Regions from separate parts of the Homo sapiens genome. Here region 1 is reported to be linked to region 2. Evidence: microRNA targets listed by miRTarBase, many of them from high-throughput screens and not tested one by one. Region 2 holds a microRNA gene; the other region holds the end of a gene's coding sequence.
Evidence for each region. Region 2 holds the annotated microRNA hsa-miR-7-1-3p (CAACAAAUCACAGUCUGCCAUA, at 797-818, shown strand). A microRNA usually pairs through its seed, bases 2 to 8, with sites in the 3' UTR of a target mRNA and lowers its output. Matches are read on the target gene's strand: a 7mer-m8 pairs with bases 2 to 8, a 7mer-A1 pairs with bases 2 to 7 and ends in A, and an 8mer does both.

Region 1 (3,411 bases), not on the chromosome of region 2:
CCTGTCTGTGAAATAAGTTTATTAAAAGGATCACTGAGAAGTGTGAATTGGAAATTGTGTATATATCACCCGGCACATAGGGATCACCCAAAAATGGTAACTCAATAGGTGACCCAAACTTGATTCTGACCCCAAATACTCCAAGGCTGCGACGCCCCCATAAGCAGAGTGGTCCCCTCCCCTTGTCAACATACCTTGATGCCAACCAGGGTTGAGTAGCAGGGCCCCCCAACCCCCAGCCTCACAGGCGGCTCTGAAGAGGATGCAGGCCCAGCCTCAGGTATCAGGAAGTCCCTGAGCAGCTCCTGTCTTCTCCTGGATTAATTGCATTCACATCTGGAACAGATGGGGCATTGGGACTCTCCACCCCCGCCCCCTTTTTTCAAAGAGCACTGGTCCAGGAGAAAACCATGTAATTAAAAGAGGAGAAATGCAAAACAATCCCCTTAGCGGACTGTGCCATCTTCTCTCCCTTGTAAATCCATTAATGAACTGTAATTGCAAAGACAAACCCTTTATTGAAACCTGGTAACCAATGCACTACGGGGCCAAGAGACTCCCATTATAGCCCAAGGCCTGAGGAAAGAAAGAAAAGAACAATCCTAATTAGTTTAGTCCTGTTTATTTATACAAAATTCAAAAAAACAAAATTACAGGTTACAAAGTAACTTGCCATCTGTCAGTAGACCATGGCTGCCCTCGGGAGATGCTGGTTTTCATTTACAACCTTCTGTTAATCAAACCTAGAGCAGAGAGGGATGTGGGAAGTCCATGGAGAGGACGGATTTCAAGAGGACCTGGAGTAGCCGTGGGGAGAACTGCGATGAGTGAAGGGCAAGAGTTTGGGATTGAAAGATCCCAAGAAGCTGGTCCCTGCCTTCATCAGAGCCTGGTGACAAGGTCCTGCCACTACTCCACCCACCGGGCAGGGAAGAACGAGGTCCTATTCCCAGGCAGGGCTTCCACCCCATCTCTGACTCCACTCATCAGGGACATCTGTTGCTTCTGCCCGCCAGCTCCCAGGCCATGGCGTCCGCTAATGACCCTCTCCTCCTCCTTGGGGACACACTGCTGAGCCTTCTCAGTCCATATCAACATGGCTGCCTCTCCCCCTCCCCACCTGTGTGGGGAGGAGAGGGGAGTGGATAATCTCAGAAGAAAGGAAGAATGAGCAGAGTCATAACTTCTCAGGTGGCTGTGTCAAGGAGCCTCCTTGGACAGCAGAAAAACTCCTGCCCCAGGGACGGACAGAGAGAAAGGGTTTGGTGAACTGTGTAGGAGGTGGAGTCAGGTCATGGGGGCGAGGGTGGCTGTGCCCCAGTTAAGTCGCGCTTGTGTATTTGTGCTGTTGTACTGATGTAGCTCTTGGGTACCGTTCGTGTTGTTATTCTGCCTCTTTGAACTGCCTCCGAGGAAGATCTTTCGGTGTGGTCTGAGCTTCTTGTAAAAGCCTTTTAGACATGCTCTCAAGTGTGAATCTAGTAGTAACACTAAAAATGCTCCATTAAACAAGAATAGGTTCAGAAAATCACCAAAGCTCCCCCTCTGAGAGGACAGAGATGGAGATTCCGGAGCAGCACTGGTCCAACAGGGGCCTGGGGGAGGTGGCCGAGATCTCAGGGTGTGACCTGCAGACCCCACATAGGGCTGGAGGAAGGGAACATGGGGCCAGGAGTCTTTCTCTTGTGCAGTCTCTGAGGTGGGGCTGCTGCCATCTGCGTTGGGGACTTTGGGTTGGGGGTGATGCCGCCTGTGCACAGGAAACAAACAGAACTCCAACAGGGCATGTTGGGGGCGGGAGGGGAGAGGCACCTAGGGCAGCCCAGGCCCAGGCTGGAGCCCTTCCCATCATCTCACACACACACTCACCCCGTGGGCTCCCAGGTATCAAGAGGAGGCACAAACCCCTGGTACGACCTAAACCCACTCTCTTTTCCTCTGGCTGGTCCCTCTGGCTGGTGGGGGTGACATGAGCACCCTGCTCAACTGTATGTCTCTTAGGGCAGGAACTACGTCTGTCTCATACAGCACCATCCCCCCCCACCGCCATTGCCCTGTAAGTACATGATACCTGAACGAATGAGTGAACGAATGAATGAATGAACAAATGAGTCCTATCTGGTGTCATTGCCCTTTTTCTCTGAAGCCTTTTTCTTTTGATGTTCTTCAGTCCTAGATTCAAGTCCTGTCTCTCAGCGACCCACTGCTGAGCAAGTCATTTCATCATTTAGACTCTCAGCTTTCCCATTTGTAATGGGGATAATTTGAGTCTTTTCTGGGTAAGGTTACTGGAAGTGAAATGAGGTCAACTAAATGAATATGTAACTGAAAAGGCAGGACAAACACCAGCTGGTTTTGGTGTGGTCACTGTCATCACTGTCACCACCACTGTTACCATCCTTCCAACCATCCCCTCCCACCACATCTTCATCCATCCTTTTCCCTGGTCCCCAAATAACCACACTGCCTCTAGCCCCATTCACTGCTTACGTTAAATCACATTTAATTGTTTCTCACCGGAGAATAGAGAAATCAGTAAAGAAATTCACAGCACTCAGAGTCAAGAAAGGGTTAACTAAAAAAGATGGGAATATATTAAGCTTTTGATTATAAAAATGCAAACGCAGTCCCTCTCACACTCACCCCTGCATTATCACTCTCACACTCACATTCTGGCAAGACTCATGCCCACCCTCAGGCGCACGTGCACACACACACACACACACACACATGCACACATACACACACGCACACATACACACACGAGCTCCCAAACGCCATTACACGCTCTCAATAGGCACACCCAGACACACCCCCTCCCACCCCCGGGCTGGCTTCCCTCACTAAAATGGTAAAGCTACGGCGGACACGTGCAGGACGCTTGGAGAGGCCACAGTGGTGACAGGCAGCCTTAGACAACTGTGTTCTCCAGGATGGCCAGCCGCTTACTCACAGCTTCCAGTGGACTCAGAGTTAAGGAGAGGTGCAGGTTGGCCAGAGCAGGGCAGGGATGGCTGTGGCCCTGCACTCAGGCCCCTGCAACACCCCACTACAGCGTGCATTCTCCCCTCTGTCAGAACTTATCCATCCACTGTCCTCAGAATGGTGCTTTCCAAAAAACACAGCCAGTTACTGTGAGCCACGAGTGCCCAGCCCTGCTCAGTTGCAGATTTAGACCTGCTGGGTTCCCCACCTAGTCCTGGCTGAGCCAGGGGAACTGTCTGGGGCCCAGCCCCACCTCTGAGTGGGTACTGGGGTCAGGCACGTCACCATGAGCCTGAGAAATGGGGCATCCATGGGCTCCATGTTCTTCAGAGCATGTCCAGGACTCTGGTGTGTGTCCAGTCCCTAGATCCTGGCTTCTGCCTCATTTTCTTGTTTACCTTCTAGGAGTCTCTGCTTTTGACAGGG
Region 2 (3,388 bases):
CTGTTTGAGTCTTGTCAAGTGATCAGTGCTATTAATAAAAGTAGTTAAGTAGGTTTTGAGCCCTTAACTAACTAAGGGAAACATTAGTAAGTGTGACATAAATACATTATAACTCAAACCTTGACAGGTTTAGGGAGCGTTAGATCATCAGTTAAGATTCTGAATGAATAAAATTAATAACTTCATGCTCCTTGAAAATACAGGTAGTAAATGTTAAAAGTATATCGTAAACACATACTTTTAAAAAATCTTTTCAGTTGGCTGGATCTATTATTGGCAAAGGTGGTCAGCGGATTAAACAAATCCGTCATGAGTCGGGAGCTTCGATCAAAATTGATGAGCCTTTAGAAGGATCCGAAGATCGGATCATTACCATTACAGGAACACAGGACCAGATACAGAATGCACAGTATTTGCTGCAGAACAGGTCAGTTTAAGTTTAGCTTTGTGTTAGCTTATACATACTAAAACCTTTAAAAAGCTTTTCTTCTCAATTGATTTTTTTCTTTTAGAAGCCATGGTGTCTCAACCTTTTGGGGACCTAACTTCTAAACATTCTAATAGTTTGCCTTAATTTTTCTTCTGCTTTCTTACTAAAAATGAAGACATTCAATACTAATCTTGCTGGAAGAAGCCTTAACCAAGCAAACTTCTCATTTCTCTGGTGAAAACTGCTGCCAAAACCACTTGTTAAAAATTGTACAGAGCCTGTAGAAAATATAGAAGATTCATTGGATGTTGGCCTAGTTCTGTGTGGAAGACTAGTGATTTTGTTGTTTTTAGATAACTAAATCGACAACAAATCACAGTCTGCCATATGGCACAGGCCATGCCTCTACAGGACAAATGATTGGTGCTGTAAAATGCAGCATTTCACACCTTACTAGCATTCTTTGTCTTTTCTACCAAATATTAACAACTTTCAATTCCGTTTTCTTAATTCTGTTCTACTAATGTCCGATTTACTACTCATCATTTTTCTTGACACTTAACATTGCTTTAATTTGTAATTGCTAATGGTTTTTGAACTCTTCTAATTGTAATGGACGTGTTTATCATTTTAATTTAGCATTGAAATTGTCTTGATGTTGATTAAGATGTTACGAGCAAAAATTCTAATTCGCACTTTTTTTTCTTTTCTTTTATAGTGTGAAGCAGTATGCAGATGTTGAAGGATTCTAATGCAAGATATTTTTTCTTTTTTATAGTGTGAAGCAGTATTCTGGAAAGTTTTTCTAAGACTAGTGAAGAACTGAAGGAGTCCTGCATCTTTTTTTTTTTATCTGCTTCTGTTTAAAAAGCCAACATTCCTCTGCTTCATAGGTGTTCTGCATTTGAGGTGTAGTGAAATCTTTGCTGTTCACCAGATGTAATGTTTTAGTTCCTTACAAACAGGGTTGGGGGGGGGAAGGGCGTGCAAAAACTAACATTGAAATTTTGAAACAGCAGCAGAGTGAGTGGATTTTATTTTTCGTTATTGTTGGTGGTTTAAAAAATTCCCCCCATGTAATTATTGTGAACACCTTGCTTTGTGGTCACTGTAACATTTGGGGGGTGGGACAGGGAGGAAAAGTAACAATAGTCCACATGTCCCTGGCATCTGTTCAGAGCAGTGTGCAGAATGTAATGCTCTTTTGTAAGAAACGTTTTATGATTTTTAAAATAAATTTAGTGAACCTATTTTTGGTGGTCATTTTTTTTTTAAGACAGTCATTTTAAAATGGTGGCTGAATTTCCCAACCCACCCCCAAACTAAACACTAAGTTTAATTTTCAGCTCCTCTGTTGGACATATAAGTGCATCTCTTGTTGGACATAGGCAAAATAACTTGGCAAACTTAGTTCTGGTGATTTCTTGATGGTTTGGAAGTCTATTGCTGGGAAGAAATTCCATCATACATATTCATGCTTATAATAAGCTGGGGATTTTTTGTTTGTTTTTGCAAATGCTTGCCCCTACTTTTCAACAATTTTCTATGTTAGTTGTGAAGAACTAAGGTGGGGAGCAGTACTACAAGTTGAGTAATGGTATGAGTATATACCAGAATTCTGATTGGCAGCAAGTTTTATTAATCAGAATAACACTTGGTTATGGAAGTGACTAATGCTGAAAAAATTGATTATTTTTATTAGATAATTTCTCACCTATAGACTTAAACTGTCAATTTGCTCTAGTGTCTTATTAGTTAAACTTTGTAAAATATATATATACTTGTTTTTCCATTGTATGCAAATTGAAAGAAAAAGATGTACCATTTCTCTGTTGTATGTTGGATTATGTAGGAAATGTTTGTGTACAATTCAAAAAAAAAAAAGATGAAAAAAGTTCCTGTGGATGTTTTGTGTAGTATCTTGGCATTTGTATTGATAGTTAAAATTCACTTCCAAATAAATAAAACACCCATGATGCTAGATTTGATGTGTGCCCGATTTGAACAAGGGTTGATTGACACCTGTAAAATTTGTTGAAACGTTCCTCTTAAAAGGAAATATAGTAATCTTATGTATTTTTTTGTGTGAAGTGTTTTTCTAGCATTTATAAGTGAAAGCTGGCAGGGGTGGTAGTTGGGCTCATAATTAACGTGGTAATTTAGCAAAATGAGAGCCTAGTCATCCAATTTTTTTTTTCTTATAGTCAGCCAGAGCTTTCCTCATTACCTATGAGAAATTTTGAGTGAGTTACTTGGTTCCTTTCTCTAAAATAGCTTTAGTTTGATGTTTGAGAATATCGGAGATAATGTAAAATAACTGCAGAGTATGGTTCCCGGCTCATATTTCTGAAGTACTACTTATTAACCTCCAGCTGTCCAGAAAGCTTGAAAACTGTTTTTGTTTTGTTTTGTTTTGTTTTTTGAGACAGTGTCTTGCTGTTTTTCCCAGGCTGGAGTGCAGTGGCATAATCTTGGCTCACTGCAACCTCCATCTTCTGGGCACAAGCAATCTTCCTGCCTCAAAACAGATGAACAACTATATAGGAAAGGAGTCATGAATGTAATTATTGAATTTAGGTCAGAGGCTTGTGTATAATAAAAGTAACAGTTGGGCAGTTCTAGAATTCATGTAAGTATTAATAGTATGAACAGAATAATGTCTTTTAAGGGAAGTAGAGTTGAGTGACATTTAGTTTGGGGAGGGACGTAGAGTGATCTTTTGATTAATGAAGAACATGAAGTAAATGTCAAAATATTACTTAAAACTAGTGAATGCTACCTGTGGTATGGTTTCCCCAGTGTGGTTGAGTTGGGGTTGCTCAGGGTGAAATGAGCCCTTACCCCTAAAGAAAAATGACAAGGACACTTTAGTCAAATTGTTAATCCTACTGAAGGAAAGCATCCCTGGAGAGAACACTGGCTTCCAAAGCTTTTATCTGTTACCTGTAAATGAGTTAT

Region 1: the mRNA of MATN1 is a reported target of hsa-miR-7-1-3p. Seed matches in the 3' UTR shown: 7mer-m8 at 2,103-2,109.

The regions. Positions count from the first base shown.
Region 1 is chr1:30,710,671-30,714,081 of GRCh38, forward strand. It overlaps MATN1 (matrilin 1), which reads right to left. Exons shown (of 8, transcript NM_002379.3): 8 at 607-2,961. The coding sequence ends at 2,912. Among named protein-coding and RNA genes, the nearest start is that of MATN1-AS1, 6.4 kb to the right of the region's middle.
Region 2 is chr9:83,967,201-83,970,588 of GRCh38, reverse strand. It overlaps MIR7-1 (microRNA 7-1), which reads left to right and starts at 732; the gene lies at 732-841. HNRNPK (heterogeneous nuclear ribonucleoprotein K) reads left to right here. Exons shown (of 17, transcript NM_031263.4): 16 at 258-427; 17 at 1,149-2,506. The coding sequence ends at 1,182.